3 linked regions of the Homo sapiens genome follow. The protein of the gene in region 3 interacts with the protein of the main gene of each other region in a pairwise test. Each region holds a gene or a part of one and is shown on either strand. Other genes may lie near its edges.

Region 1 (11,486 bases), on a different chromosome or scaffold from region 3:
GCTAATTTTGTTGTATTTTTAGTAGAGATGGGGTTTCACCCTGTTAGCCGGGATGGTCTCCGTCTCCTGACCTCGTGATCTGCCCACCTCGGCCTCCCAAAGTGCTGGGATTACAGGCGTGAGCCACCACACCTGGCCCCAACAAGCAGATTTCTAAGGCACTAAAATGTGCAGGTCATTTTCAGAACTCTGATGGAAGACCCTCATCCCCTCAAAGGCACTGCAGGTAGGGAGCAAAAGGAGCCCACTTCCCTCACACCCAGTCCCTGAGAGTCAAGAGACCCAAGTGCCAAGCTCTATTACAGGACTCCTGGCAAGTCCTTCTAACTAGACCTCAATGTCTACGTCTGTGTAATGGGACCCAGATGCGCAGGGCTGGATTGCTGAGGCCACAGGGGATGCCCCCACCCATCCCAACCCCAATCAGGAACACAAGCCTGCCCTAGAGGAAGCTACCAAGACCCTTGCGGCCCACAGCAGCAACATCCTCCTCTTACTCCAATGCCTTCCATTCCCCCTATTGCCCCTATTGCTAGTCTCTTTCTTTTTTCTTTTCTTTTTTTTTTTTTGTGTGTGTGTTTGTCTGTTTGAGACAAAGTCTCATTCTGTCACCCAGGCTGGAGTGCAGTGGTGCGATCAAAGTCACTGTAGCCTCAAACTCCCAGGCACAAGGGGTCCTCCTACCTCAGCCTCCCAAGTAGCTGAGACCACAGGCGCATACCACCATGCCTGGCTATTTTTTTTTTCCTTTTTTTTGTAGAGACAGGGTCTCAATATGTTGCCCAGGCTGGTCTTGAACTTCTGGCCACAAGCAATCCTCCTGTCCATCAGGGGCCAGCCTCAGGATCCACCTCACCAGGGATGCTGAGGGATCCCTCACAGGGATCTTGCCAGTCATCATCCTCCACCCAGCAAGATCCCTCTTCTGTTCCAAAACCTCTTAAGGCCACCAACAGAACCTAGACCCTGTAGCTCGCAGAAGTTACACAAGGCCCTTGGCTTCTGTCCACACCAGAAACAAGTGCTTCAACTCCAGCACCACCAACCTGTTGGCTACTCCCTGCAAATTAATTCAACTTTCTCATCACCACATCTTGGCTCACACTGTTCCCTGCCCTTGGAACACCCTTTCCCTGCGTCTGCCTCAGATTTCAGTGAAGTCTCTGCTCAAAAACCACCTCCTCCAACAAGCCTTCCTGGTCGTGAAATTGCTCTCCTTCTCCTCTGCCCTTTCGCACCACTTCTCACACCCACCTGGCTCTCCCCTGGGCAGCCAGGCAGCTGCTCATGGCTGTGCCCCTCACAACCAGCCCAGAGCAGAGCATTCTAGCGGTGGCGGGGTCAGTGGCTCTCCCCATCTGCAGAATTAAATGATTCCAGGAACTAGACCTCTTCCCTCAGAAGACAGAATCTTCTCCCCTTCTCCCCCACCCCCCAAAAGAGAAACAAACAAAAAACTCTGGGAGAACTGTTAAAAATGAATTTCTGGCTGTACTTCCTGAGATTCAAATTCCGATTGCACATTTTTTTCCGGGGGTGGAGTCCAATAATCTAAATTTTAAACAAACCCGCCAGGAGATTCAGAGGTTGGGGAGGGGGCCCACAGAGATCTGAGAAATCCTGAAATGAGATAGCACTGACCCAGGTAGAGGTGGGCCCGCACCTGGAGAGGTCAGGGAAGGGAGACTGGACCTCAGCCCAGGGTCTGGCACCAAAGCAACCACCCTGCCCTCTAGCTTGGGCCTCGCAGCAGCGCTAGCACCCAGCAATAGGAGACAATGGGAAATGTCCACTCGCTGGATTGCTAAGAAATACAGGTCCTGGCCCAACTCCAATTCCACCTGAGTCCTCTGAAAATGTATCAGGCCCTCACCCACCCAGGGCACCCACCCAGCTTCCAGACCCTCACGAAAGGGTGGCAGAGGAAGAAGCTAACATCCGGGCCTGTGGCTGGTGTGGGAGTGGAGGATGTTCCCATGGGTCCGCCTCAGTTGGGGTCTGTACAGGGGTCTGGGAGAGAGTAGGAGTCTTGCCCCTGGCTACCCACAAACCCCTCCCTCCAGCGATATCTCGGTCCCGTGGGGCTGGCTAAACCGGCTGAAACCTGGCGGGTCACCCAGAGAAAGCTAGAAGAGCCCGGCTCCCGCGCGGGCGCCCACAGGGTAGTGCCTGAGTGTGCGTGTTGGGGAGTCGGATGTGCCCTCTAGATTAGATGAGGAATGTTCATGGGTGCGGCCACCCGGAGCCGCTGGGAGCGGGACAGAAGGTGGTCAGAGAGTGGACTTTGCCTCAGACTGGGTTCCCTAGAGGGCTGGGGGCACTGTCCGGGCAGAAAGAGGGGTGAAAAAGAGAGAGGAGGGAAGGGAGGGCTGGGAAGGGTTGGCGGGTTGTGCGCAGTGACTGTGGCTCCGGTGGGGGCTTCTGTGGCCGCTGGTAACCACCTTGGAGGGGGCACGATGGGGCACGGGCAGTGGGCACTCTGTACACGGTGCAGGGTGCTCACGCTCGCAGCGACGGCCACGGGGTAGTGTCGTGGTGAGAGGGATGCAGGGCGATCTTGGGGGCGTCCGTGCGGGAAGCGCCCTAGGGGTACGCGCAGCGCGTCGGTGACAGTGTGAGCCCGGGTGGGGAGCGCAAGGTTCGCGAAAAATGAACGCAGCGCCGGAGTCCCTCACCCATCCTGGCCGGACCGGGAGCCCCCGGCCAACCCCGTGGGCCCGCGCGTGCTCTCACCAGCTGCAGCAGCATGAGCGCCCCGAGGCGGGAGCGCACGAAGCCCAGGTCCGGGCGCAGCGCCGACACCGAGGCTTCGGCGCCCTGCGCAGGACTGCTGGTCCGCGTGCTAACTTTCGACGGGAACTCGGCCATGGCGGCTCCGCTTGCCTCCCGAGGTCGCTACGGCCGCCGTCGCCGCCCCTCCAGCGGTGGGTGCCGGCTCCCGCGCCGCTTTTCCCCCAGGCTCCGGATCCCTGTGTGGCTCCAGGCGCTGCAGGAGGCGTCGGGGCTGGGAGCCTGGGGCGCCAGGTGCGGCCGAGATCCCGGCTCCGCCCCCGCCGCCGGGGCCGCCCCCTTAACCCTTTGCTCGCCGCCGCCGCCCCAGCCGCGACCGGTTCGTGGGCAGCCGCGTCCACTCCCCGGACCAGTAAACAACCCCGGGTCCGTGAATCGGCTCCGCCAGCACCAGCCTAGACCGCTTCGCCGGCCTCCCCCGGGGCAAGCCGCCCGCTGGGAATTTCCCGGCTCTCGCCCAGGCCGTGGTAGCTTCCGCGCCTAGGGATAAACTTGTGGTAGCTCGCGGGGGACACCGCTCTCCCAGGCGCTTTCTACGCGCTGTGCACCCTCGGCCTAGGCCCCGGCGCAGCGACTCTTGAAGAGTCCCGGGAGAAGGCTGGATGCGGTGGCTCCTGCCTCTGATCGCAGCACTTTGGGAGGCTAAGGTGAAAGGATAATTTCAGGCCAAGAGTTCGAGACCAGCCTGGGTAACACAGTGAGACGCCCCCCCTCCCCCCGTCTGTATTTTATAGAAAAGAAAGTAAAGAAGAATCCTGGGAGACCCAGCGCGGGGAAGGGGAGGGTCTGGGTAAGCGGTGGGTAAGCGGTAGAAGGGGGAGGTCCTTTTCTGCCTATTAATGCTGTTTTCACTTCTGAACATATTTTATATAACTTAGATGATCGCGGAGCCTCAGTTTCCTCGTCTGTCATATAGATACGAAGGAAACCTGCCTCACAGAGCGTTGTAGGGAATAAATGAAATATTCCCCAGAAAGCTCCTGACAGCGTGAGGGAGGAGGGGTCACTCAGAAGATGGGAGGTCATATACAGTTTCATTGCCACACATGCACCCTAAAATACTTACACACACACACACACCTCTTGAGCCTAGAGGTTTGCACAGATAGGTCATCATGCATTCATCAACCAATGTTTGCTGAACACCTACTACATGCCAGGCCCTGTGGATACAGCAGGAAACGAAGTAGACAAGGCCTTCTTGGCTCCCACATTTTTTTTTTCCCAAATACCCACTTAAAAAGAGAGCCACTTAAAAAATTGTTTTTAACTGACATGTAATATTAGGTTGGTGCAAAAGTTATACGGTTTTTGCATATAAAAGTATAGCAAAAACCGCAATTACTTTTTCGGCAACCTATAATTGTACCTAAATATGGGGTACCATGTGATGTTTTGGTACCTGTGTACGTTGTGTAAAAAAATCAAATCAAGGTACTTAGCATATCCATCACCTCATACATTTATGGCTTCTTTGGGGTGAGAACATTCAAAATCCCCACTTCTAGCTACCATATTTTGAAATATACAATATTAGGGCCAGGCGCTGTGGCTCACGCCTATAATCCCAGCACTTTGGGAGGCCAAGGCAGGCAGATCACCAGAGGTCATGAGTTTGAGACCAGCCTGGTCAACATGGCAAAACCCTGTCTCTACAAAAATACAAAAAAATTAGCCAGGCATGATGGTGGGTGCCTGTAGTCCCAGCTACACAGGAGGCTGAGACAGGAGAATCACTCGAACCCAGGGAGGCAGAGGTTGCAGTGAGCTGAAATCATGCCACTGCACTCCAGCCTGGGTGACAGAGCCAGACTCCATCTAAAAACAAAAACAAAAAAAGAAAAGAAATGTACAATATTGGTATTTTTTTCTTTTTACTTTTATTTATTTTGAGGCGAGGTCCCACTCTGTCACCCAGGCTGGAGGGCAGTGGCATGATCATAGCCTACTGCAGCCTCCAACCCCTAGGCTCAAGTGATCTTCTCACCTCAGCCTCCCTAGTAGCTAGGACTACAGGTGCACGCCACCATGCCCAACTAATTTTTTTTTTTTTTTGAGATGGAGTCTTGCTGGAATTACAGGCTCGAGCCACCATGCCCAGCTAATTTTTTGTATCTGTAATAGAGACTGGGTTTCACCATGTTGGCCAGGCTGGTCTTGTGATCCGCCCACCTTGGCCTCCCAAAGGGCTGGGATTACAGGCATCAGCCACTGGGCCCAGCCCTGACTAATTTTTTTAAATTTTTTTGTAGAGATGGGGTCTCTCCATGTTGCCCAGACTGGTTTCGCACTCCTGGCCTCAAGCGATCCACCCGCCTTGGCCTTTCAAAGTGCTGGAATTACAGGTGTGAGCCACCATGCCCAGCCCTAACTGTAACTTTGTACCTGTTAACCAACCTCTTTGTATCCTCCCACTACACCCCAGCCTCCTGTAACCACTATTCTACTCTACTATGAGATCAATTTATTTATTTATTTATTTGAGATGGCGTTTTGCTCTTGTTGCCCAGTCTGGAGTGCAATGGCGCGACCTCGGCTCACTGCAACCTCCGCCTCCCAGGTTCAAGCAATTCTCTTGCCTGAGTAGCTCGGATTACAGGCGCCCGCCAGCACGCTAAGCTAATTTTTTGTAATTTTAGTAGAGACAAGGTTTCACCATGTTGGCCAGGCTGGTATCAAACTCCTGAAATCAGGTGATCCACCTGTCTTGGCCTCCCAAAGTGCTGGGATTACAGGCGTGAGCCACTGCACCTGGCCGAGATCAACTTCTTTATTTCATTCCACATATGAGAGAGACCACGTGGTGTTTGTCTTTCTATGCCTGGCTTATTTCACTCACATGATGTCCTCCAGGTTCATCTGTGTTGCCACAAATGATAGGATTTCAGTCGTTGGATCCCACTGTCTGGTGGGGATGAGAAGTAATAAACCCGGGAGGAATAATACTTTCAGATAGTGACAAACGCTGTGACTAAAGTAAAATGGGGGAATGTGACACAGAGTCACCCACAGGTGATTTCTGGGTTAAGGTGGTCAAGGAAGACCTGTGGGAAGAGGTGACATTTATGCAGAGACCCAAATCATGAGTAGGGGCTAGCCTTGGGAATTCTGGGGGAAGAATTTAATAAGTGCAGGAGCCCTGAGGCTGGACCAGTTTTGAGAACAGAAAAAGGTCCTTGGTAGGGCTAGAGCCAAGTGAGTAAGGGTGAGATTGGCAACACGGGCCAGGGCCGGATCACACAGGCTATTTAGAGGACTGTATTAGTGCCCTGTGGCTGCTCTAACTTGGTGACTTAAAACAACAGAAATTTGGCCAGGCACGGTGGCTCACGGCTGTAATCCCAGCACTTTGGCAGGTGGATCACCTGAGGTCAGGAGTTCCAGATCAGCCTGGCCAACATGGCGAAACCCTGTTTCTACTAAAAATACAAAAAAATAGCTGGGCGTGGTAGTACACGCCTGTAATCCCAGCTACTCAGGAGGCTGAGGCAGGAGAATCACTTGAACCCGGGAGGCGGAGGTTGCAGTTAGCTGAGATTGAGCCATTGCACTCTAGCTTGGGCAACAAGAGTGAAACACGGTCTCAAAAAAAAAAAAAGAAAAGAAAACCCAGAAATTTACTCTCCTGTAGTCCTGGAGGCCAGAAGTCTGAAATCAGTTTCACTGAGCCAAAATCTTCCAAAATTTGGGAAGAGCCAAAATCAGGTGTCCTGAGGGTCATGCTCCCTTTGCAGAGTCTAGAGGAGAATCCCATCCTTGTTCTTCCAACCCTGGTGGGGCCTGCTGGCATTCCTCAACTTATGACTGCATCAACCCTGTCTCTGCCTCCTACGTCACATGGCCTCCTCCTTTTCTGTATGTATAACATCTCTCTCTGCCTCTCTTATAAGGACACTTGTGATTGTGTTAGGGCCACCCAGATACTCCAGAATAGTTTTCCTCAAATAAAGAATCTTAATTTGAGGCTGGGCGCAGTGGCTCATGCCTGTAAACCTAGCACTTTGGGAGGCCAAGGCAGGAGGATGGGTTTGGCTCAGGAGTTTGAGACCAGCCTGGGCAACACAGCAAATACCCCTGTCTCTAAAAAAAAAAAAAAAATTGGCCGGGCGTGGCGGTGCACACCTGTGGTTCCAGCTACTTAGGAGGCTGAGGTGGGAGGATTGCTTAAGCCCCAGGAGGTTGAGGTTACAGTGAACCATGTTTTTGCCTCTGCACTCCAGCCTGGGTGACAGAGCAAGACCCTGTTTCAAAAGGAAAAAAAAAGAAAAAGAATCTTAATTTAGTCACTTAATCTGTAAAGACCTTTTTACTTTATAAGGTAAAATGGACAGGTTCCAAGAATTAGGATCTGTTCTGTTTGTTTGTTTGAGACAGGGTCTCACTCTGTTGCCCAGGCTGGAGTGCAGTGGTGCCATCCTGGCTCACTACAACCTCCGCCTCCAGGTTTCAAGCAATCCTCCTGCCTCAGCCTCCTGAGTAGCTGGGACCACAGGTCCTTGAGCCACCATGACTCACCAATTTTTTGTAAAGACTGGGTTTCACCATGATGCCCAGGCTGGTCTCGAACTTGAGCTCAAGCAATCCTCCTGCCTTGACCTCCCAAAGTGCATGAGCCACTGATACATCTTTTAGTGGCAATTATACAGCCTACCACAATGATGGAGAAGGGCTAACATTTTATTTTAAGGCTTGGAGTGTTTTTTTTTTTTGAGACGGAGTCTCGCTTTGTCGCCCAGGCTGGAGTGCAGTGGCGTGATCTCAGCTCACTGCAAGCTCTGCCTCCCGGGTTCACGCCATTCTCCTGCCTCAGCCTCAAAGAGTAGCTGGGACTACCGGCACCCGCCACCACGCCTGGGTAATTTTTTGTATTTTTAGTAGAGATAGAGTTTCACCGTGTTAGCCAGGATGGTCTCGATCTCCTGACCGCGTGATCTGCCTGCTTTGGCCTCCCAAAGTGCTGGGATTACAGACGTGAGCCACTGCGCCCGGCCAAGGCCTGGAGTGTTTTAAGCAGGCGAGAGACAAGCTCTGATGAACACTTTAAAAATATCACTGGTTGATGCTGACTTAACCCTTTACTCAACGGGATGTTCAACCCCCTCCCCTCAATGCACCTGAGCCCCTTCCCCTGTCCCAGCACCCCACTTGCAGTAGGTGCTCTGGAAATGAGGAGTCTTCTTGGTAGCTGCAAAATTGTTACTCAGAGACCAGCCTCTCTGCAGACAAGTCCAAGTGCAGAACAAAGCTCGGGTGAGCCCTTAATTTTATTGTGACACAGAAAACAAAAAGATGATTGTTTCTGAGGCAGATTCTAAAACAGTAGGGTGTTTTTGTTTTGGTTTTGGTTTGGATTTTGTGGGTTTTTTTTTTTTTGTTAATCCCACTTTCATTCTTTTCAAATGGCAGCAAGCAAGACTGAAAAGACTGAATCACTCCACTGTTTTTCACTTTGACATTTTCTCCCAAACCAACTTCACTCGCCCCCCAGTCAGAAAAAGTGGGAAGGAACCTGTCCCCAGACTGGAACCAGCTGCCCACCCACAGTCTCCGCTGGCGCCACGGGGTCCTGGATTCTTAGGATGGGGTGGGGGGACAGACAGCCTGTCTACTGCCAGGACCGGCCTCCCCTTCCCGGGCTCTGAGCAGCCTATCTCCACACGGGATACCTGCAGTACATGTCTTGCCTCAGTTTTCTCCAGTTCTACAAAAGTTCCCTGCTCTGACCTTATCCCCACTGCGTACTGGGCCTGCCCAGCTGTGGCCCCAGCTACTCAGCTACTCAGCAGTGGGGGTTCAGGCACGAAGCAGATGTTTAGTGTGTGCCTCGGGAGTGCCAGGCCCTGGGGATGGAGCTGTGAGCTGTGATGAGGGCCCCCACCTTCAAGGAGTCTAGTGGGGGAGACAGACAGTCTAGATGTACAAACCCACCAAGAAATAGCAACTCACCAGTAGTGATGATGTCACCACAGAAAAAGGGCAGGGAGCCAGGGGAGAGAGTAATTCTGAGGATTGGGAGTTGTCATTTAGATAACTGGGTCAAGGAAGGTCTAAACATTTTAGCAGAGACCTGGAGGATGAACAAGAATCAGACAGGAGAAGAACATTGCAGGCAGGGAAAACTGCCTTCTGTGCAAAGGCCCTGAGTCAGGGAAGACTTTGAGATCTCTGAGGAAGCACCGAGGGATAAGAGTTGGGAAGATAGGGAGAGATGAGGTTCAACAGGCAGCCAAGAGTCAGATCACTTGGGTCTTAAACCACTGAAGGATTTACACTATTAGATTTACAATTGTTGTTGTAGCTGGGTGTGGTGGCTCACACCTGTAATCCCAGCACTTTGGGAGGCCAAGGCAGGCGGATCACCTGATTTCAGGAGTTTGAGACCAGCCTGGCCAACATGGTGAAACCCTGTCTCTACTAATACAAAACAATTAGCCGGGTGTGGTGGTGCATGCCTGTAATCCCAGCTACTTGGGAGGCTGAGGCAGGAGAATCACTTGAACCCAGGAGGCAGAGGTTGCAGTGAGCTGAGACTGCACCATTGCACTCCAGCCTGGGCAACAAGAACAAAACTCTGTCTCAAAAAAAAAAAAAAAAGACAATTGTTGTTGACACAGGGTCTCACTCTGATGCCCAGGCTGGAGTGCAATCGCATGATCATGTCCCTCTGCAGTCTTGAACTCCTGGGCCCGAGTGATCCTCCCAGTTTTACTTCCCCAGTAGCTAGAACTATAGGCGTGTACCACCATGCCCAGCTAATTATTTTATTTTATTTTTATTTTTAACTTATTTTTACCATTTGTTGTTGAGACGGACTCTTACTCTGTTGCCCAGGCTGGAGTGCAATGGCGCAATCTCAGCTCACTGCAACCTCCACCTCCTGGGTTCCAGTGATTCTCCTGCCTCGGCCTCCAGAGTAGCTGGGACTACAGGCACCTGCCACCACGCCCGGCTAATTTTTTTGTATTTTTAGTAGAGATGGGGTTTCACTGTGTTAGCCAGGATGGTCTTGATCTCCTGACCTTATGGTCCACCCGCCTTGGCGACAGGCCTAATTTTTTTTTTTTTTTGAGATGGAGTCTCCCTCTGTCGCCGGGGCTGGAGTGCAGTGGCACGATCTCAGCTCACTGCAACCTCCACCTCCTTCTCCTGCCTCAGCAATTCTCCTGCCTCAGCCTCCCGACTAGCTGGGACTACAGGCACCCGCCACCACACCCAGCTAATTTTTTTTTTTTTTTGTATTTTTAGTAGAGACAGGGTTTCACCGTGTTAGACAGGATGGTCTCGATCTCCTGACCTCGTGATCCACCCGCCTTGGCCTCCCAAAGTGCTGGGATTACAGGCGTGAGCCACCGCGCCTGGCCTAATTTTTTTATTTTTTGTAGAGACAGGGTCTCGCTGTGTTGCCCAGGATGGTCTCGAACTCCTGGCCTCAGGGAATCATCCTGCCTCGGCCTCCCAAAGAGCTGAGAGCACAGGCTTGAGCCATCACACTCTGCCTTTTACAATTTTAAGAAATTCACAGAAAGGTTCCCATGGGAGTTCATCTAACAGCTTCCAAAAGCCAACTTCAACGAGTTGCTGATTGCAGTCAACAAATATTGATTGAGTACTTTTCCAACTGGCCCTATGCTTGGTGCTGTGGGAATGGTTCCTTTTTTTTTAAAATACATTTTATTGTGTATATATAAGATATACAATATGTTGTAAGATACATATAGAGTAAAATGGTTACTGTAGTGAAACAAACTAACATATCCATCATTTCACATGGGTACCCATTTTCCTCCCTGTGGCAAGAGCAGCTATAATCTGCTCATTTAGCAAAGATCCTGAATACAACACACTGTTATTAACTATAACCCTCATGCTGTACATTAGGTCTTTCCACTTCTTCATCCTACATGTTTGCCACTCTGTACCCTTTGACCTACATCTCCCCATTTCCTAGTTAGTTTTGAGGGCTTTTTTTTTTTTTTTTTTTGAGACAGAGTCTCTCTCTGTCACCCAGGCTGGAGTGCAGTGGCGCGATCTCGGCTCACTGCAATCTCTGCCTCCCGGGTTCACGCCATTCTCCTGCCTGGGACTACAGGCGCCCGCCACCATGCCCGGCTAAGTTTTTGTATTTTTAGTAGAGACCGGGTTTCATCGTGTTAGCCAGGATGGTCTCAATCTCCTGACCTCGTGATCCGCCTGCCTCGGCTTTCCAAAGTGCTGGGATTACAGGCGTGAACCACCTACCCAGCAAGATCTAGCTTTTGTGCTCAGCCTCTGGGTGTTGACCTCTAAACCCTTGGAATGTCATATCTGATAGTCATTGTTTAGGGTGGAGCTGGCCACACCTGATAGTCTAACAATGTGGTTTAGCCTGGGGTCTGGCTGCAGCAGGTCACCGAACAGTGTGGCTTAGGGTGGAAGCTTTGGGACACAAGATATGGACCCACATAGCTGGACCTTAGGAGGAGCTGGAGTCTGAGATTTGCCACCTGGGCAGTCAACCCTGCCTGCATGATGGGACCTCAATAAAGACTCTAGACACCAAGACAGTGAGTTTACTAGGGTGGCAATAGTCTGTGCACATTGTCACACATTGATGCTGGGAAAGTAACGCTGTCCCTGATTCCACAGGGAGAGGATAATGGAGGTTCCAGGTTTGGAACTTTCCTAGCCCCTTCCCTATACACCATTTCCCTTGGCTG
Region 2 (11,534 bases), on a different chromosome or scaffold from region 3:
CCACATAAACAGAATTTAAAACAAAAATCACATGATCATTTCAATAGATGCAGAAAAAACATTTGAAAAAATCCAGCATTGCTTTATTGTCAAAACTCTCAGCAAAATCGGCATACAAGGGACATATCTTAATGTAATAAAAGCCATCTATGACAAACCCACAGCCAACGTAATACTGAATGGCGAAAAGTTGAAAGCATTCCCTCTGAGAACTGAAACAAGACAAGGATGCCCACTCTCACCACTCCTCTTCACCATAGTACTGGAAGTCCTAGCCAGAGCAATCAGACAAGAGAAAGAAATAAAGGGCATCCAAATCAGTAAAGAGGAAGTCAAACTGTCACTGTTTGCTGACGATATGATCGTTTAACTTGAAAACTCTAAGGACTCTTCCAGAAAGCTCCTAGAACTGATAAAAGAATTCAGCAAAAGTTTCTGGATACAAGATTAATGTACACAAATCAGTAGCTTTTCTATACACCAACAGCGACCAAGCAGAGAATCAAATCAAGAGCTCAACCCCTTTCATGATAGCTGCAAAAAATAATAATAGTAATAATAAAATACTTAGGAATATACATAACAAAGGAGTTGAAAGACCTCTACAAGGAAAACTATAAAACACTGCTGAAAGAAATCACAGATGACACAAACAAACGGAAACACATCTCATGCTCATGGATGGGTAGAATCAATGTTGTGAAAATAACCATATTGCCAAAAGCAATCTACAAATTCAATGCAATCCCCATCAGAATACCACCATCATTCTTCACAGAATTAGAAAAAAAAATTCTAAAATTCATATGGAACAAAAAAGAGCCCACATAACCAAAGCAAGACTAAGCAAAAAGAACAAATCTGGAGGCATCACACTACCTGATTTCAAACTATACTATAAGGCCATAGTCACCAAAACAGCATGATACTGGTATAAAAATAGGCACATAGACCAACGGAACAGAATAGAGAACCCAGAAATAAACCCAAATACTTACAGCCAACTGATCTTTGACAAAGCAAACAAAAACATAATGTGGGGAAAGGACATCCTTTTGAATAAATGGTGCTGGGATAATTGGCTACCCACATGTAGGGGATTGAAACTGGATCCTCATCTCTCACCTTATACAAAAACCAACTCAAGATGGATTAAGGACTTAAACTTAAGACCTGAAATTACAAAAATTCTAGAAGATAACATTGGCAAAACCCTTCTAGACATTGGCTTAGGCAAGGATTTCATGACCAAGAACCCAAGAGCAAATGCAATGAAAGCAAAGATAAATAGCTGGGACCTAATTAAACTACAGAGCTTTTGCACAGCAAAAGGAACAGACAGCAGAGTAAACAGATAACCCACAGAGTGGGAGAAAATCTTCGCAATCTGTACATCTGACAAAGGTCTAATATTCAGAATCTACAAGGAAGTCAAACAAATCAGTAAGAAAAAAACAAACAATCCCATCAAAAAGTGGGCCAAGGACATGAATAGACAATTCTCAAAAGAAGATATACAAATGGCCAACAAACATGAAAAAATGCTCAACATCACTAATGATCAGGGAAATGGAAATTAAAACCACATTGTGAAACCACCTTACTCCTGCAAGAATGGCCATAATCAAAAAATCAAAAAAAAAATAGATGTTGGTGTGGATGTGGTGAACAGGAAACACTTCTACCCTTCTGGTGGGAATGTAAACTAGTACATCCACTATGGAAAACAGTGTGGAGTTTCCTTAAAGAACTAAAAGTAGAACTACCATTTGATCCAGCAATCACACTACTCAGTATCAATCCAGAGGAAAAGAAGTCATTATTCAAAAAAGATACTTGCACACACATGTTTATAGCAGCACAATTCACAATTGTGAAATTGTGTAACCAACTCAAATGCCCATCAATCAATGGGTAGATAAAGAAACTGTGATATATATATATATGTATATATATAAATATATACATATATATGATGGAATACTATGCAGCCACAAAAAGGAATGAATTAACAGCATTCGCACTGACCTGGATGAGCTCGGAGACTATGATTCTAAGTGAAGTAACTCAGGAATGGAAAACCAAACATCGTATGTTCTCACTGATATGTGGGAGCTAAGCTATAAGGACACAAAGGCATAAGAATGATACAGTGGACTTTGGGGACTTGGGGAGAAGAGTGGGAGAGGAGTGAGGGATAAAAGACTACAAATATGGGCCAGGCACGGTGGCTCACGCCTGTAATCTCAGCACTTTGGGAGGCCGAGGCAGGCGGATCACGAGGTCAGGAGTTAGACCATCCTGGCTAACACAGTGAAACCCCGTCTCTACTAAAAATACAAAAAAAAAATTAGCTGGGCATGGTGGGGGCACCTGTAGTCCCAGCTACTCGGGAGGCTGAGGCAGGAGAATGGCATGAACCCGGGAGGTGGAGCTTGCAGTGAGCCAAGATCGCGCCACTGCACTCCAGCCTGGACGACAGCGAGACTCTGTCTCAAAAAAAAAAAAAAAAAAAAAAAAAGACTACAAATGTAGTGCAGTGTATACATGGATGATGAGTGCACCAAAATCTTACAAATCACCACTAAAGAACTTACTAATGTAACCAAATACCACCTGTACCCCAATAATTTATGGAAAAATAAATTTTTCAAAAGCACAAAAAAAGAAAAAAACCTAATCAGTACTCTTCAGAAGTGTCAAGATAAGGACCCAGATTTTCCCAAATTAAAGGAGATGAAGGAGATACGGCAACTAAGTGCCATGTGGGATCCTGGACCAGAAAAAGGACATTAGTGAGAAAATTAGCAAAACTGGAGTAAGGTTTATAGAGTACTTGATAGCACAGTATCAGTGTTAGTTTCCTGATTTCAAGAGTTGTACCACGGAAGATGCAGGCATTACCAGCAGCTGAGGGAAGAGTACACAGAACTTTCTCTACTATTATTGCAGCTTTACTGTAAATCTCACGTTACTTAACAGTACAAATAAATGAAGAAAATTGGGCCAATGTGAATTTTGATTGTCATTGAGCCCCTCACCCCCCACAACACGTAAGGCCCCAGAGCCCAACACCAGCGTGCACTTTGCTCTTCCAGGAGTTTCACTGGCAGGAGCAGGGCAGGTGCGGCCAACATGACCTCTCATGTTTCTCACCCTGGGTGCTGTCCTGGTTCCAGAAACTCCGTGCCTCTAGCCTCCTTCCAGGACTTCTCCCCTGGCCTCTAGGCCTTTCCCTCTCTTTCCCCCCAGCCTGTAAATGCCTGTTCTTTGAGGTCCAACTCTTGGTGGCAGGCCTGGACCCCTCCTTGGCCTGGAGAGTTCAGATGGTCCCTCCTTGCTGAGGCCACCATCCACTTGTTGGGAGGAAATGCTCATGAGTCTCTTCCCGGCAGACAGGAAACCACCAGGAGGCAGTGCCCTGTCACCAGGGGCTTGCAGGACTGACATGAACCACAGGCTCAATAAAAAGAGGCAGAGTCAACCAGTACCCCAGCCACCCATGCAGCTGCTCCAAGGTGAGGGGCACACCCAGGGCCTGGCACGTAGGACTCATCAGAGCACGGTTATGTCATCAGTCTGGCAGGATGCCCACGCTGTGCTGGGGATGGTAGCCTTGGCAGAAACCTGCCTCTTAGGTGGGGTTTCAGCTGGAGCCACTCAGATCCTAGGCCCACCCTGCCTGATTCTCTTTCTGGTCGCCATCAATGGCTAACCCGTTCGCCAGTTTGCCTAAAAGTGGCTTGAGGGGGCCCAACTTTGCAAGCAGAAGACGAGAATGAGAAGGGCTGAAAAGTAGATGCACTTTCTATCTTTTCCCCCCTGCTCAGGGACAGCACTGCCAAATTCAGGGCAGGTAAGAAAATACCACCCACAAGCTAGATACTTCAGAAGGTGCTGGAAAAAGAAAACACTCCTTTGCCTTGATTGGACCCCAGGCTTGACTGTGCTCCTCCGTGAAGAGGATGTGGTACCAGCCAGTTCCGAGGGAACTTGTGCAGTGCGGAACGCTGCATACGCACAGCTCTGCAGATGGGAGCAGGCAGGATCCCCAGGGATCAGGGCCACGACTCAGTCGTAGGGCGCCCCAGAGAGTAACACAGCGACAGGTTCTCATTTGCAACCAGGGTGCCGCACACGACTGTTTTATGGCAGATGTTGCCATAGCTACCTGGTGTGGGAGACCCCACAAAAGTCAAAGTTCAAAGTCAGCGGACGTGACAATTAAGAAAACACTGGAAGACCTACTCTCAGAGGGAAACACAGTCTCCTCACTTCAAACCAGAAAGGCACAAATAGTTGGACAAAAGAAGCCGCGTAATTAAAATTCATGTGCAACATCTCCCTGGGAAGCCTGGATATTTTAGCGACGTCCCCCCAGGCCTCCACACTCAAGTGGGTTTTGTTTTGGAGGGAGGAACCCCCTTGGCGGCATAAGACGGGGCACCGAGTGGCATCTGCCTCTTGAGTACAGCTGCGCCCCGCTGTGCGCCCGGTGGGAGGCTGGCAGCCACCGCAGCCCCTGTGCTCGCTCCCCGCTCTCGGTCCGGTCTGGGTCTCTCTCGGCGCGGTCCGGTCTGGGTCCGAGGCCGGTCTCCCCCCCCCTCTCTGCAGGTGGCCCCTGTGCTTGCTGCCCCTCTCTCTTCTCGGTCCGGTCTGGGTCTCTCTCTTCTCGGTCCGGTCTGGGTCCGAGGCCGGTCTCCCCCTCCCTCTCTGCAGGTGGCCCGGGTCGGGGGTGCCGCACTCACCAGCTCGGGCAGGAAGAAGGCGAAAGGGATGGTGAGGAACAGCGCGACCCCCGAGGGCACGTCGGACGGGGCGTAGCTGGTGGCGGGCGGGTCGGGCGAGGCCATGCTGTCAGCCCCTGCCGGGTGCTCCGCGGCAGCTCGCCCGCGCGCAGCCTGTCAAATATCACCTCCTGCCCGACACACCCATCGGACGTCGCCTGGGAGGGAAAAAAAAAAAAAACGTTCCAGCCGAGCAGGTCCTTCCACTCGCTGCAGCCAGCAGATCCTCAGTGGGCGGCCCAGCGGCATCGGATGGCTCTGCCTGGCCGGCGGGGGGCACAGCGCTGGTGCAGGAGGGAGCAGAGCGGGAGTCTCCTCCTAGACCTTTCCAGCTAAGGAATCTTTGACCCCCGGAGCATGTTATTCCAGGGGATGCCAGCGACAGCCACTCCCCTGGGCCCAGAGTGTAGGCCCAAGCTGCTTGGCTACGAGGGCTGCGTACTGAGGACCAACAATGAGCCAAGCTATCTGCAGACAGCCCGGGTGCCCACCACGGCCTGCACGTGGCTGTTTTGCCCTTTTCCAAGTGAGGAGACTGAGAATCAGTGAGGTCAAGTCAAGACCACAGAGCTGGTTACTAACAATGCTGGGTCTTGCCCAGCTCCCTCCTTTTCCACTCTTGGGGACAGCTCTCAGTCCCCAGCCTCCCCTGGGAGGAGCAGCCCTCCCTTCCAGCTCATGCCCCTGGGACTTGGTGTTTCCTTCTTTTTCTGGATCCCTTTCCATGGTCCTCCACTCCTCTTTTCCTCATGGGGCAGATGAAGGCCCCCCAGTCTCTGGGAGAGGACCACACCGGCAGGCACCAGAGAAGGGCTGGGCTGGCTGGCTGCTGCCTCTAGTGGACAACCTCCTTCCTTCCCTGGCCTTCCTTCCAGCCAGTGCCTTGCCCCTAACTGGGCTTGAGACCAAGAAGTTTCTTCCTGACTCCTAGGCAAGTCAGGGAGCTGAATGCAGGGCTGTGACCCAGAGGCAAGCAACTCCTTTCACACCAAATACAAGTCCCAAAGGCTGAACCATTTTCCCCTCCACCTTTGAATTGGCGAACCTTCATTTTCCCGACCCGCCCTGAAACAGTCTGCTCAGGATGCTCCAGGTTAGGGTCCCTTCTTCCTGCCCCCTGCTGCTCCCTGGTGTGGAGAGCATGTGGGGAAGATTGTGTGAGGGCTGGAGTAATTAGAAGAGGCCATGTCTTGATCTCATTAGCAGAAACGGTGAATGCCAGGTCCTGCCCTCAGGGCCACAGGTGGGGAGACCAGCCAGCTTGGCCTTTGCCTGGTCTGGGGAGAGCCAAGGGAGAGAGGAGTTTGGACAAATGAAGCTAAGACCAAAGGCATTGCAAAGAAAGGCAATGAACCCCCCAGTGGATCTCAAACCAGACTGATCATCCCTTTTTCCCAGGCTACGGAAACTAGGAAGTAAGGGAGACCCTAATCCCACCTGCCAACCCCAGTCTCACCTACACCACCTTGTTTACAGGATTAATCCAAGCAAAGGAGAGATTTCTCCATGAATCCCACATCTTGCCACCTCTCTTAAAGGTTGCAAATAAGCACTGTGCCACTCTTACAGGCTGTAGGATACCTTTGACTTGCCCATGGACAACATGGCATAGTAGGAAAAGTTTAAGTAAGAAGAAAAACAACCTTCTTAGGCTCATATCTATGAAATGGAGAAAATAATACAACCCATAACCCCTTAGTCTCTTAAGCTGAGAGGCCCTGAGCCATTTCCACCTTCTGAAGCAATTAGTATATTAAGAAATGAAGATATGCCTTGGTCTTCTGGCTAAAGACCAGGGTTTTCATTTTCCTTCTCTGCTGTGCATCTCTTCTGACTGGGTCTATCTTCAGGACCAAAGCAATGTGTGTGTGTGTGTGTGTGTGTGTGTGTGTGTGTGTGAGAGAGAGAGAGAGAGAGAGAGAGAGAGAGAAACACAAATGTGAAAATTATTCCCCCCATGCTTTTAGGATCATGGTTCCTCTGATCAGAGACAAAGGTTCCCCTTTCTCAGAGTTCCAGGTACCTGCCTGGCTGCTACTTCCATTGCCACCACCACTGTCACGAGATTGCACAGGGGCTAAGGAAGGAAAGAATAAACAAACAAACAAACAAAAAACAGAGATTTTCTACACTCTCTCTGACTGTTTGGGGCTCTCTTTCCCATTCCTCAGACCAGAAACATGGATTCTTTTGGAGATGTCTTTGTCTGCATCCTGTGTACAGTTCTGGGTTTCAGGTGGTCTCTGACGCTGGCTGACAGGTACCAGAGGAAAGAAAATGGGAAACTCACCAACAGCTTAGTAGTGTTTTGAATTCTGGTTTCCTTCCCAAATATTCCTGCTCCTTTTTTTTTTTTTCTAGAATCCTCAGTTAGCTTCTCCATGCATTCTGTCCAGGGCTGTTAATTGCATTTCATGAAAGGAAGAGGAGGAGTATCCTTCTCTACTTGACCAGAGCCCAAATAGCAACATCCTGCTTAACTCTGCAAGCACTTTTCACTACCCAAGATTTCCCTGATTGATTAATTTGCCTATTGTTTGTCTCCCTGCCCCTGTCCCTCTCTAGGATGTGGGCTTAAGGAGAGCCAAAACTTTGTTCATGTGGTGAACCACAGCCATGTCCACCATCTTGAATACTGTCTGATACACAAAAGGTACTCAATAAATGTTTTTAAATGATTGAAACAGTCATGAAAACAGTCATAAAGACTTTGGAGACAACTGCTTCTCTCTTTTTTTGATTCCTATTTATTAAACTCTTTTCCCACTAAGAAATTGCTTTATCTATATTTCAGAAACAATTTACTAGTTGCATGAAAAAGAAGAGAGAAGCCAGAAGAAATCCAGAGATACTTGGGGGGAAAGAATAGACAGTTGTATCCATTGGGATTCTTTCAATAACAAAAGTTAGAAAAACCCATTCCAAATGGCTTTAGTGATGAAAGGAACGTATTACTTTAGGAAGTGAGAAGCTAAGAGGTAATAATGGCTTCGGGTGAGACTTCATCCAGTGACTTGAACAATGCCACTCAAGGTGGAGGTGACGTTACCAAGAGAGAAGTATATGGAGGCTGAGCAGCAGAAACACCAGATGTCCACTATAGTAGCCTCCCACTGTAGAAATAGGAGCAGAGCTCTCCCCTTTTCTGCTGCAAGAACACACATGTCCCACTGGCTCTCGCCTGCTAGACACAACTAGATTGCAACTATTATTTCTACAAATCAAGGTCTCTTTAACTCTCAAATGGGGTAGATAGAATGCACACACTGATAGACTCAGGAAGATGCTGTGATTAATGTTCGTAGCCATGAGGCAGAATTGAGTCTGGCTTCTTGTGTCTCTGGAGTTGGGCAAGTACAGAACAGTTGCCCGGAAAGAGGAAGGACTCAATGGGATAATGTCTGGGTCATCCAGAGATTCCTACCTGGAGAAGAGCTCAGAAAGCATGGAGACCTTTTTATTCCCCAAAATGGCCTCTTCGAAAGGACACAGTTCTGCAAAGTTAATCTTTGCTGGCAAAGTCAGATACAAATGAGCAGGTTAAGGTCCAGTCTGTCTTACAGAGTATCAGAAAAGGGCTAAATGACAGGCACACTATCAAAGTCCCAAATGTGAGCTGTATTCCATTAATGAGTTCTGTTTTATATTGCTGCACACAGACCTGCACGCCTCATTCAGTATCAGTCATCACTGAGCAGAACATCCTCGACCTCCATTTTCCTGCCTATGAGACAGTATAACCTATAGACTTTCACTTGCCATTCACTTACTATTTTTCTGAGACAAGGTTTCCCTGTTGCCCAGGCTGGAGTGCAGTGGCATGATCACAGCTCACTGCAGGCTTAACCTCCTGGGCTCAAGTAATCCTCCAACTCAGCCTCCTGAGTAGCTGGAACTACAGACCTGCACCACCATACCCGGCTAATTTTTGTATAGATGGGGTCTCATCATGTTGCCTAGGCTAGTCTCGCATGCCAGGGCTCAAGCACCCTGCCTGCCTTGGCCTCCCAAAGGTGTGAGCAACTGTGCCTGGCCCATTCACTTATCTTTATACCCATCCCTCTTTATCCAAATTGACTTGGTTACTGCATTCAAATATCAGAATTCAGAGAGCAAGTTTGAGTTTTGAGGGATACAGTATTACCAAATCCACGTGTCCTTGAGTTTCAGAGAGTAAATGTGGGAGTTCAAATAGTGAGGGATTCATTTGAAAAGGTATTTGAATCTAACTGGTCCCCAACAACAGACAGTGGGGTTGGGAGAGGGAGAGTGAGGATAGGAAGGAATGCCTGTACACTTACCATTGACTTCATGCCTGCCACGGGGCCACTAACAGCCCCAACCATAGTACTGTTGGAATTAGTTTTTGTGTTTGGCTGATTACTGTCCACCTCATGCATTGTAAGGACAGAGATCTTGCCAGGACTGTTCTCACTGTATCTTCAAAGCTCAGTGCTGTGCCTGGAACATGGCAGGTGCTCAACACTTGTTGAGTAAATGATGAATGGATAATTGTAACACTTAGATGCAAAGTGCCCTAAGTAAGGTTCTTTCTCTGCCTCTTTGTTTTGAGGAAACAGATCACAGCAGCTAGGTGACAGCTGTCTTTGATCACCTCCACACCCCAAGAAAGCCTCCCAACTTAGAATGCTTCACGCAAGAGGAAGCTGAGGCAGTTCACAGCAAAGGATATCCTATAATGCTGTAAATTGACAAAGCCCTCAACTGGCAGAGGACACTGCTGGCTTCCTCTGTTAAACTGATAGTTTCCCAACTGCTACTGGGTTGGCAAGTCAAACTTGCTCCATTTGTACACAGGGTTATGTATGTCAACTGGTTTTATGTGAGTTGCTCTGGCCTTGCGCATTAGATCACAAACACTGAAGACAGAGACTATACCTGCTCTTTAATATCTGCCTCTGCCCCTAGACTTTCATTCCAAGCACCCAGGCAAGCGAGTTGCAACATTTTTCACCTCTGCAGACCTGATGGATATGACACTCAACCAATTAAGAGGTTGGGAGGGTGGGGAGGAGTGAGCCATGTAGTTCACAGTTCAGACTCCCCGCCCTGGCCGCCCTCCCATGGTTCGGGTGTGGTGAGTCCCCCTGGCCTTGGAGGTAGGCACCACACGTGTGGTCACTCGGCAAAGACCTGCTGTTCACCCTGCTGCTGCCCGCCCCCCACCACCATGACTCTTACAATTAATTCAGTGAGTTGCTAAAGTCACACTCCTTGAGACAGACCCACGAGGACTCATTTCCAGGATGTTTTTGGCTCCTTGACAACCTTTTCCGTTGTGGAAGCCAGTAAGTGGCATTTAAAGTCACAGAGATTTTGTTGTTTGAAAAAAAAAAAAAGATTCCACTGATTGAAGAGAAGGTGGAGTCTCTTAATAGCAGAAATGCCCACACCCCTGGGTCTCTCCCTTCCGTTATGTACCTCACTTTCTGGCCTAAGCTTCACTTAAGCTTTTTCTCTGGTGTCCCTATGATTTCCTAATGTGTCAGAAACTATGAAGTTGTCCATATTTGTCAGCTCATGACACATTCTCAAATGAACGTGGAAGACAGTCTTGGAAAATGCATTCTAATAAAAAGCCTTCTCTTCCTTCATGTTGTACATGCACTGAAAGAAATTCACTAGCATTTTCTTTCACTCAAAATGCCCCACCCCTGGCTTAACGCTAAGAATAAGCCAAATGCTTAAAAAAAATAAATAAAAAGATGGCCAAGCATGGTGGCTCTGAAATCCTAGCACTTTGGGAGACTGAGGCAGGAGAATTGCTTGAGTCCAAGAGTTCGAGACCACCCTGGGCAACATAGTGAGACCCTGTTTCTACAATAAAAAACACAAAAATTAGCCAAGCATGATGGCACGTGTGTGTGCTCTCAGCTACTCAGGAGGCTGAGGTAGGAGATCACCTAAGCCCGCGGAAGTTGAGGCTGTAGTGAACTGTGACTGCACCACTGCACTACAGCCTAGGTGACAGAAATAAATAAATAAATAAAAATAAATAAATAATAATAAATAATAAATGCCTCAAAAATAAATAAATAAAAATAAAAAGGTGGAGCTTAGAAATTATAAATCAATAATAAATAAATAAATGCCCAAAAAATAAATAAAAATAAAAAATAAAAAGGTGGAGCTTAGAAATTAAAAGTCATTTCTACAGAGAAATGACTTTCACAGTGAGGAGTGATATGGGCTCATGTTCTTTCAAAAACAGGACTGCAGGGGACTAAGAGTAAGAGGAGGCAACTCAGTAACAGAGTAGCAAAAAGTCTCTGTGCACACTTACCACCTCCATTTGAAAGGCAAAGCCCTCTCCCTGGGAGCAGGAGCTGGGGAGGGCCGCGGTGCTAGAGAAGTGGGGGCACCACTTTGTAAGTGTGCCCAGGCAGCTGATGGGCAAAAGGAAGGTGTTTGCCACACTCAGCCTTGTATTGTGTGGTTGAGGGCAGAAGGGCACGCACAGGGAGAGATCTCCTGAAATGAGTTCCTGGAGAATGAAATCTCTTTTCCAAGGCCCAGTTCTCACTTGTCACATTTGTGGCTGGGAACACTTTCTTTCTTTTTTTTTTTTTTTTTTTTTTTTTGAGATGGAGTTTCACTCTTGTTGCCTAGGCTGGAGTGCAATGGCACGATCTTGGCTCACTGCAACCTCCACCTCCCAGGTTCAAACAATTCTTCTACCTCAGCCTCCCAAGTAGCTGGGATTACAGGCACGCACTACCACGCCCA
Region 3 (9,824 bases):
TACTGGAGCCCTTGGCTTTGTAACACATTTTAATTAAGGTACTTCTTTCTGACAAGAAAACAATTAAAATTAAAATAGGTAGGGAAAGAACATTCATTTTCACCAGATCAGCATTTTGTGAAAGGTGATATAAGTGTATACCTGTGGATGTACTGGGTGATTTTGTGAAAATGATTCGGTTTCATGTTTTGCTTTATGCTATAAAGTACTCTTGAAAATAATAATCATCTTCACTCTGTCAAAAGTGAAGTTAGCATGAAAATGAGGTAGAAAGAAACTATAAAGAAGTAAATTTTTCCCATTTTTATTTGAAATAATGTAATCACAGAGCAAATTGCTGAGGTTTTCTCTAATTGCTTTAGTCTTATACTTTTGATCTCATCAGAGCTCCAATATTTTTATGTGTTCCTTGTTCTTAAAAATAATTGCAGTTGTTCTAATTCTTATTTTTAAAAAAAGGACAACTAGGGGTAAATATTTTGTCAACTGTCAAGAGAACAATCCTACTAAGTCAATAGGTGGAATCTATAAAAGGAGTCTATTTATTAGTTTCCCTTCTCATGTATCATTTACAGAATTGTCTTCATTTCAATTGAATAATTAAAGAATCAGAACTGGCTGGCTCTGTCTTTAATTCCTTTTATAAAACCAGAACTTGACCCAGTAAAAATGTATTCTGAGTCCTAATAACTATAGACCTAGCCATGAATAATCTGGGTTCTATGTGAAATTTACAGATCTTAGTCCAGAAACTAAACAGCAGATATGAAAGGAGAAACTGTTGATAAATAAATGAAAAGTATTGAGTTTTCCTCATAAAATTTCTCGAGACAAAAAAAAAGCAATGATCAACAGCAAAGGAGAATGTAATGAAATCATATACATGCAGAAACGTGGACAATTCTTTAATTGTATGCTTTTTAAAAGCTCAAAAAAATTCTTGTTCTGGTTAATTACTGTACTCTGAGTACCCATCTCCTATTTCTTTGCTCTTGAAATTGACCCTGTTCAATTCCTTTTATAAACTTTTCCTATGGCCACATCCACTGCCTAAAACAAGATAGAATACCTTGGGATCTAATAATAAAATAATAGTTCCTTTTTAAGCTCTTGCCATGTGCTAGGCACTGTTCCAACAGTTTTGCATAAATTAGGATAATTTGAACTTTAGACTAGCCTCCTTAGGTACCTTCTGTCATTTTACAGTTGAGACATAGGAACTAACAGGGATTTCATTAAGAAACTTGCTTAAAGTCCCAGACTTAGTGAAGTAGCAGATTGAAGATTAGAAAAGAGGGCTTGAGCAATATTTGGCCACCGAAACCAGATCCATAGGATGTATAACCTCACATTCTCAAATGCTATTGAGAGTTACGTGGTGTTACTCCAAGAGTCACAGCTATGGACTTGTTTCCTTTTTCCTTGTTTAAAATAAACTTTTGTGGGCTCAAATGTGTTTACATTTTTTTTTTTTTTGAGATGGAGTCTCGCTCTGTCACCCAGGTTGGAGTGCAGTGGCACGATCTCGGCTCACTGCAAGCTCCACCTCCCGGGTTCACACCATTCTCCTGCCTCAGCCTCCCATGTAGCTGGGACTACAGGCGACCACCACTACACCCGGCTAATTTTTTTTTTTTTTTTGTATTTTTAGTAGAGACGGGGTTTCACCATGTTAGCCAGGATGGTCTCGATCTCCTGACCTCGGGATCTGCCCGCCTCGGCCTCCTAAAGTGCTGGATGTGTTTCCATTTTGAAAAAAAAAATTCCTCTGTAATCAGATATTTCAGAAAGATGTTTTCTCCCTTTTCATTGAGTTTTCAACCATTTTCAGTTGCATCTAGTATCGGAGGGTAAGGGTTATGAGTACAGGTTCTGGATTAAATTCTCTCATTGTGAAATGGGGATTTTAGTAGAGTACCTATCTCATGGGGTTCTGTAAAGGGTACAGAGATAATGTATCTCATGCACTTAACATAGAAATAATAATAGAGCCAACCCTGTAATCGGCACAATTCCACATACTTTGCAGAGAATAACTCTTTAATACTCAAACTGACTCTCTAAGGAAGGTAGTCTTATTAGCTCTATTTTACAGACAGAAAACAAAGGCAAAGAGAGGTTAACAAACTTGCCAAAGACACAAAGTTGGAGTTAGATCCCAAGTTCATGTTCCTAAACATGACACTATACAGACCCTACTGTGCCTATAATAAGTCTTTAATAAATGTTAGCTCTCTATACACCTCACCTAAAGCTTGCTAAAGAGAATCCTTACTAACTCACTCAATCACAAAGAAGTTAATCCGGTTTATAAACTCCTCTCCATGGCATCAGAAGACAGAAGTTTTGTTGTTGGGTAGTTGCAGGAGCAGAGTCAATACCCTGTCACCAAGGCTGGCCTGGAAAACAAGCTGCAAATGTCCAGAGTGATGCTGCATGGAGGGGGATTCTGAACCAACAGCCAAGAATCCCATTTTCAAGTCCTAACTCTGCCACATGTTTTCTGTGTAACCTTGAGCATGTCACTTAACGACTCAGCTTCAATTTCTCATCTGTAAATCAAGGGGAATGAGACAGGATAAATGGAAAGGGTCTTTTCTACCCTAAAATTTCTGGATTCTATGAGCACAGGGTCTGCATATGTGTCCTTGTTAGATACCAGTGATACATTGTACCAATAGGTTATTCATAGTATTCATACTTCATACCAAGAATGAGACATTCATCACTCTAACTTTCTTGATATTCATAAGCACAAGAAAATTGTTGTGCTTTTGAAGACCTCAAAAAAAGGAATCTAAGGCTAAAGACAAATTTTTTAAGTGTCATAATTTTTTTCAAGAATTAATAGTCATTGTTGTCCATATTCAGTTGTACTGGCTTATTTCCAACAAAATTTCCCTTGCCTACATGGGGCCTGAGATGCTCTAAGCTTTCAGAAGGACAGAAATGAATAAAAGCATTTTTCCTAAAGAACAGAAGAATCATCTTAAGTGGGCATATGTGAACTATCTAGTTTCCCAATTACTGGCAAACAATTTTAATCTTGGACTGCCCTCCTTGCCATACAAGTATTGTATTACTTGGCCCCTGTATTAGTTTTCTATTTGTTGATATAACAAACTACCACAAATGTAGTGGCTTAAAACAATATAATTTTTTTATCTGACAGTTCTGTAGGTCAGAATTCCAATACCAGCTCACTAGACTAAGTTCAAGGTGTCAGCAGAGTCATGTTCCTTCCTGGAGACTCTAGGGAAGAATCTGTTTCCTTGTTTCATCCAGCTTCTAGAGGCGACCCATACACCTTGGTTCATGGACGCCTTCCTCCAACTTCACAGTTGGCAGCATAGCATCTCTCTAATGAGGGATGGTTTCAGGATGAAACTATTCCACCTCAGGTCATCAGGAATTAGAGTCTCATAAGGAGCATGCAACCTAGATCCCCAACATGTGCAGTTCACAGTAGGGTTCATGCTGCTATGAGAATCCAATGCCATGCTGGTCTGATAGGAGGCAGAGCTCAGGCAGTAATGCTTGCCTGCTGCTTACCTCATGTAGTGCAGCCAGGTTTCCAACAGACCACAGACAGGTACCAGTCCTTGGCGTGGGGGTTGGGGACTTATGAGAATCATGTTTCTATCAGTTGTTATGGCCCATTATCTGCTCACTTGTTCTCTCCATTTGCATAGATAATTGACATTTGACATTTGGTAAGATTTTCTTTAGTTTCTTTTCTGGATAAACGTATCACTTTTGTATGTTTTGTGATACTTAGGACATAATGATGTCATCCAAGCCAACAAGCCATGCTGAAGTAAATGAAACCATACCCAACCCTTACCCACCAAGCAGCTTTATGGCTCCTGGATTTCAACAGCCTCTGGGTTCAATCAACTTAGAAAACCAAGCTCAGGGTGCTCAGCGTGCTCAGCCCTACGGCATCACATCTCCGGGAATCTTTGCTAGCAGTCAACCGGGTCAAGGAAATATACAAATGATAAATCCAAGTGTGGGAACAGCAGTAATGAACTTTAAAGAAGAAGCAAAGGCACTAGGGGTAAGTCTATTTACTACCAGAATTTTAATTTCACATTTGCAAGGTCTTCTTATAAGTTATAGGAGAGTATCATCCAATTGCTAAAAAGTTCTGAACGTTATTCTGAAATTATCTCTTTTAGACAGAAATATTTAGTCTGCCTATAGACTTTCCCTTGAGTTCATTTCATTTTAGATCAAGCAAAAATATAACAAGACACAGAGGAGCCTCCCTAGCTGGAGAATTTGGTAATATTGACGTGACAGAAGCACTGTTACATCTAGCTTGATCTCATTTCTTCAAAGGACTTTTTGGACAATCTCAATCCCATCTCTGGATTAGTTACAAGTCTGGTTTTTGCATAAAGGTGAATTTACATAACAATGAACAATGATGGCTGCCCCCAGAAAAGGAAACTACAAATGGGCAGTCTGGGAAAGGCTGAGTGTGAAAGAATTGGGGGACATTCCATCTGCTATGCCTCTTTCACCAATACCCTTAGAGATGCTACAGTTTAACTGTCACCTTACTTCTACAAAGGAGACTCTGAACTGACTGCCTTGTTTCTGTAGGCATTGTAAAAACAAAAATGCCCTACTTGTAAGAAAATTCCACCTGCCTAGGTAGAATTGTTAGTCCCTTCTCCGTGCTTTCCAAATACATCATTCATCCCGCTAGCACAATTCCACCAAATTATATTAAGTCTCTCCCTGTGAATAGCTCAAAATGCTCTGCTGGAGCATTCCGTAAATGAATGCTCATTATGTGCCAGAAACTCTTCTAGCCATCTTACTATGTATTTCAAGTTGTGATGTTTTAGGGAAGTAAAAATGAGCATAAGTTCTCCTGCAGCAGCCTATTTACTAAGCTGTGGAGGTGGCCCTTCTGATCCTCCTCCTCCCAGATAGAGGAAATTCCCTGCTCCTAATAAGCCAATGGGACAAACTAACACCCCATACAGCCAGCCCCACACAGGTGCTTGGAATATCATTAAGCACAAAGGAGGTGCAATCTCTGCCCTCACAGAACTTACGCCCTAGAGGGGGAAATCAGACTGTATACATAATAAGGAAGTAAAGTACTTAGTGTGTTAGAAGGTGTCGAATGATATAGACAAAACAAAGAAGTGTAAAAGGGCTAAAAAGTACTAGGCAGTGAGGAGGCAGCAATTTCAAGGTGGTCAGAATGGGCTTTCCTTAGAACATGACATTTGAGCAAAAACCTGAAGTTAGGAGTGAGCCCTGCAGATATTAGGGAAAGAGAAAACAACCAGTGTAAAAGTCTTTAGATGAAAATGTCTTTGAGGTATTTGAAGAACCGGGAGGAGGCCAATAAAATAGAACAGAATGAGTGAGGGAGGGGGCAGTTGTCAGGAGGGCAGATGAGTGGCAGAGGCCACAGGTGGTGAGGCCTGCAGAGCAGAAGGCTTTGGCTTTGACTGGGTGGATGAGGAACCACTGAAGCATGCTGCCCGGCACCGAAGAGGCGTGTGATAAAAATACTTTAAAAGAATGTGAAGTTTTGTTTTCAAAATCTCCAGTTGGCAGAAGCTACTTCCTCTCTCTGAAGATTTGTTATTTCTATGCCATCAGCAGGCCCTGGGCATCATGACAGTGCAGGGGCCACAGGTGGCAGGACTTGGCACACCTGTACCAGTCAACTCAGACCTTAAAGTGCTTCTGTGGCCAAAAATGCAGACAAATTGTATGTCCAAATTTTTAAGTCTGTCCTATAGGCAATTTTGATCAGTAGATGGTACAGCCAGGGCTGTAGGAGGAGAAATGAGGGCCAGTACAAATCCAGATCTAACTGCCCCTCATCAAGGTGACAGCAAGGATGAGAATGGGAAGTTTGTGACCAGACGGCTGAATTGCTGCTCTAAAGAACAGTTGTAAAAACCAAATATAAAGTCTAATACAGGAGTTCTTTAAGTGAGATAGGCTAAACGTGGCCCATCATCTCTCTGAAGCTATAAGCAAAAGTATGGTATGTGTGTGTATGAATGTGCAAGAATAATTTTTCAGGGAGAAAGGTTCATGGTTTTTATTGATGTCTCAAGAAACTTTTAGCATTGTTTATGAAACTGGGTTTTTTTCTAATTTTAATTCGATTTACTTGTGTTCAGTAGCTATTTATTGAAGAAATAAATACAGCAGTCTTTGTATTTGCAGTCTCCCTGGATAGATAAGATGTAACCATGGGGAAAAATAAATTACAAATCTACAATCAAGTTTTGGACCAATCTAGAAATGATTATTCCTCAGAAATCTATCTTTATTTACAATGAAGGAAGGTTCAATAAGAGGTACAAGGAGGTAAAAGATGTATACCTTACTTTTAGTAATATATGATTGATAAGAAGAATGATTGGTAAGAAAATGATTGCATACCTGCAACTTTTTAAAAAAGGACAATATACACTTTGGGAGGCCAAGGCGGGCAGATCAAGAGGTCAGAAGATCCAGACCTTCCTGGCTAACCCGTGAAACCCCGTCTCTACTAAAAATACAAAAAGAAATTAGCCAGGCATGGTGGCGGGAGCCTGTAGTCCTAGCTACTCGGGAGGGTGAGGCAGGAGAATGGTGTGAACCCGGGAGGCGGAGCTTGCAGTGAGCCGAGATCATGCCACTGCACTCCAGCCTGGGCAATAGAGCAAGACTCTGTCTCAAAAAAAAACCAAAAAAAAACAAAAAAAAAAACAATATAAATGAATCCAAAATCAAGTAATAAGGTGTGTTTTATGTCATGAGATGCAACTGAAATTCAGAAAGAAAGAAAAAAGATTAATTTGGTGTAATCAAGAAGACTTCATGGAAAAGGTAGAGCAGAGCTGAGCATGGGGGAAGACAGTACCGAATAATTCAGACAGGCTCAGCAGTCAATGTGCTGCAGTAAATTCCCAGATCTGCCTCTTAGGAATTGTGTGACCTTGGATACCTGATATCTTTATGTCTCTGGGACTCAATCCAGTTGTAGGAGGATTACATGAAACAATAAATGTAAAGTGTTCAGAACATGACCAAGCACATAATTCATGCCTAATAAATGGTTTTATCTTCACCAATTCCTTTACCCGTAACTGGGATGACCCAAGCAGAGAACTGATCCATCTGAAAAAGCAGCTACTGACATCACAGTTAAAGTATTGTTTTTCTAATAGTCTTTTAGAGGCCCTCAGAGATGCTAATGCATGATTAAGCAGCTGTACTTTCTGAAGAATTCTTCTTGGGCCACCCCAGTAAATTCTCCAAATACCTCAAAACAGGGCGTTTCACTAAGGGCCTTGCACTCCAGTTATTCTAGTATATGTCAGAATCTTCATGACCCACCTCCTGCTTCAGATGTGTGCCTGAATGACAACGATGGATCTCAGCAAAATTGACAATAAATAAGCAGGGGCAGCAATGACAGTAATGTTTCACACGTCTGAAAGTGAAGAAGTAATTTTAAATGGCTGTTTTCTTTTTTCAGGTGATCCAGATCATGGTTGGATTGATGCACATTGGTTTTGGAATTGTTTTGTGTTTAATATCCTTCTCTTTTAGAGAAGTATTAGGTTTTGCCTCTACTGCTGTTATTGGTGGATACCCATTCTGGGGTGGCCTTTCTGTGAGTAGATTGCTAGAACACCAGTCCTTCTTGGTTTATAAAGTATTCCCTCTTGGTTTATAAAGTATTGCTATCTCCAGCCAATTCACAACTCATTTCTTGATAAAGCCCTACATCTGAGGGCTGGAGAATTTAGAAAAATTAACAGCTCTGAATGAGGGCTGGAGAATTTAGAAAAATTAACAGCTCTGAATGAGCATGAAAAAATCGGGAACTCTTTCGCCATTTTACCTAGGAGCTTATTCCATTCTTTAAAATTTAATCATGTAATCAGCAAGCCAAAGTTTTGATATCCTACTACATTTGAGATGGAAATGTATGTATTGGGTGGAGAGAGAAAGAAAAGAAAAGGTGATTGGAAACATGATTAAAAATATGCAAGTAAGCCAGGCATAGTGGTGTGTGATTGTAGTCCCAGCTACTTGGGAGGCTGAGGCCAGGGAATTGCTTGAGTTCAAGAGATGGAGGCCAGCCTGGGCAATATAGTGAGACTCAATCTCTAAAAAAATTTTTTAATTAAAAAAATGCAATTGATTATGAGAAGGGATGGAGCAGTAAGCCTCAGAACAAGGAATGCTTAAACATTGTGAGTTCTTCATAGGCCAGAAATTAAGGAAAAGAAAATAAAAAAGAAGTCAAGGACATATGACTGAGAGTTACTCCAGAAAATTCAGAAGTGCGAGAGAAAATTTTGAGAAGGAAACTAGATGAACATAAATAGACCAACCTTTCATATAAAGAGAAATTCCCAAGCACAACCAGTTAACCCATTTCACAAATAAATTTGTCCATTTCCACAGTTTATTATCTCTGGCTCTCTCTCTGTGTCAGCATCCAAGGAGCTTTCCCGTTGTCTGGTAAGTTAGACTGTCTCTACTTTTTGAACCCCTTTAAAGATTAGCTTAACATATTGGGGAGGAAAATTGAAAAGCTGGATTTGGGAAATGCAAAAGGGAGCACCTTTCCCAAAAAAAATCTATTGGTTGCCTTATGGTCTGAGCGCTGGGGTGAGAAAATGGTCCACACAGTTTGCCACTAAGAAATGGCAGAGCTCCATATCCTGACTCTTGAATTCACAAAGGTGAGAAGTAGTAAAAATCAGGGTTGTTTAAGCTTTAACCTAAAAGCTCCCTGGTTCAGTCTGGTCACACTCTATTATGGGAAGTCCAAAGGAGAATCCAGGAGCCAGGAAATACATACTAGACACATCAGTTACCAAGTCTCTACTGTTCATTTGCCACTTCTCAGCTCTGTCTTGTATTTTTATTTTTTTATTTGTGCTATTTCCTACTCTTACACAGGTTGTGTGTTTTACAATTCTTTAAATTGCCATTAAATGAGTCTAGCTTGTTCTGTAAGAAGAGTTTATAAAAATGATGAGTAAGACAGGACTTTGAGCTCTGTCGGTCACAGCACCCCACCTATTCCAATTTCGTGGTCTACTATTGAACCAGGAAAAAGAAAGTGATTTATCAAGAACTAGAGTCAACTAGAGCAGAGGTGGTGTCAAGATTATATGTAATCCAGTACAAGAAAGAAGAACGGGGAAAGAGGAACACAGAATCATGTAGCTCATGCTCTTGCAGACAAAAGAAGAATAAAATAATTAAATCAAATTAAAATAAAATAAGCCTAATTCTGATTAACCACTCCTGTTGCAGTCCAAAAACAAAATAAAGCACCCTTTCTCTGCATCTTTTAAGGATCCTTCCGTCTAATTGAGATTGTCGAAGCATAGATTCCACCTCTTAGAGGAGACAGCCACTGACACATACCTAAGACAATTTTTCTAAGAGCTTTTAGAGAACTTCAGGAGGCTCTAAGGCACGCTGCAGCACAAGCACATTCTAAAGAACTCGACTGTGCCACCCCTAGCAAGTCACCTGCGGACTTGGTTTCACAATTATTCTTCTGCATGTTAAAATCCTATTGTAGAAACTGGGGAAAGTTTTGTAGTCGCCCATACACCTCTGCCCACAAAAGCCTAAATTTTCTCCTTCTAAATTTGGGGGTTCATATTTAGTCCCCAGAGAGACTTAGGGTTTTCATTAATTCCTAAATTTTTCAGCAAACATGTTGTGTCTAAATACTTTCCCATCTATAAAATCATATGCTATCGTACTACCTCATTCAAAGGCTGTAAGAGTTGAGATAATTTAAATAATTTAACACAGTG

Evidence for each region.
Region 1: the proteins of MS4A12 (region 3) and PLLP interact in binary tests that used the Homo sapiens proteins (3 or more experiments, as listed by UniProt).
Region 2: the proteins of MS4A12 (region 3) and MALL interact in binary tests that used the Homo sapiens proteins (3 or more experiments, as listed by UniProt).

What each region holds. Positions count from the first base shown.
Region 1 is NC_000016.10:57,281,673-57,293,158, forward strand, and holds the start of PLLP (plasmolipin), read right to left. Parts: upstream 3,001-11,486; 5' UTR 2,869-3,000; coding exon 2,734-2,868; intron 1-2,733. UniProt on the Homo sapiens protein: Main component of the myelin sheath that plays an important role in myelin membrane biogenesis and myelination. Plays an essential function in apical endocytosis. Regulates epithelial development through the regulation of apical endocytosis.
Region 2 is NC_000002.12:110,110,940-110,122,473, forward strand, and holds the start of MALL (MAL-like protein), read right to left. Parts: upstream 4,884-11,534; 5' UTR 4,854-4,883; coding exon 4,749-4,853; intron 1-4,748.
Region 3 is NC_000011.10:60,493,535-60,503,358, forward strand, and holds part of MS4A12 (membrane-spanning 4-domains subfamily A member 12), read left to right. Parts: intron 1-3,778; 5' UTR 3,779-3,784; coding exon 3,785-4,060; intron 4,061-7,510; coding exon 7,511-7,648; intron 7,649-8,448; coding exon 8,449-8,505; intron 8,506-9,824. UniProt on the Homo sapiens protein: May be involved in signal transduction as a component of a multimeric receptor complex.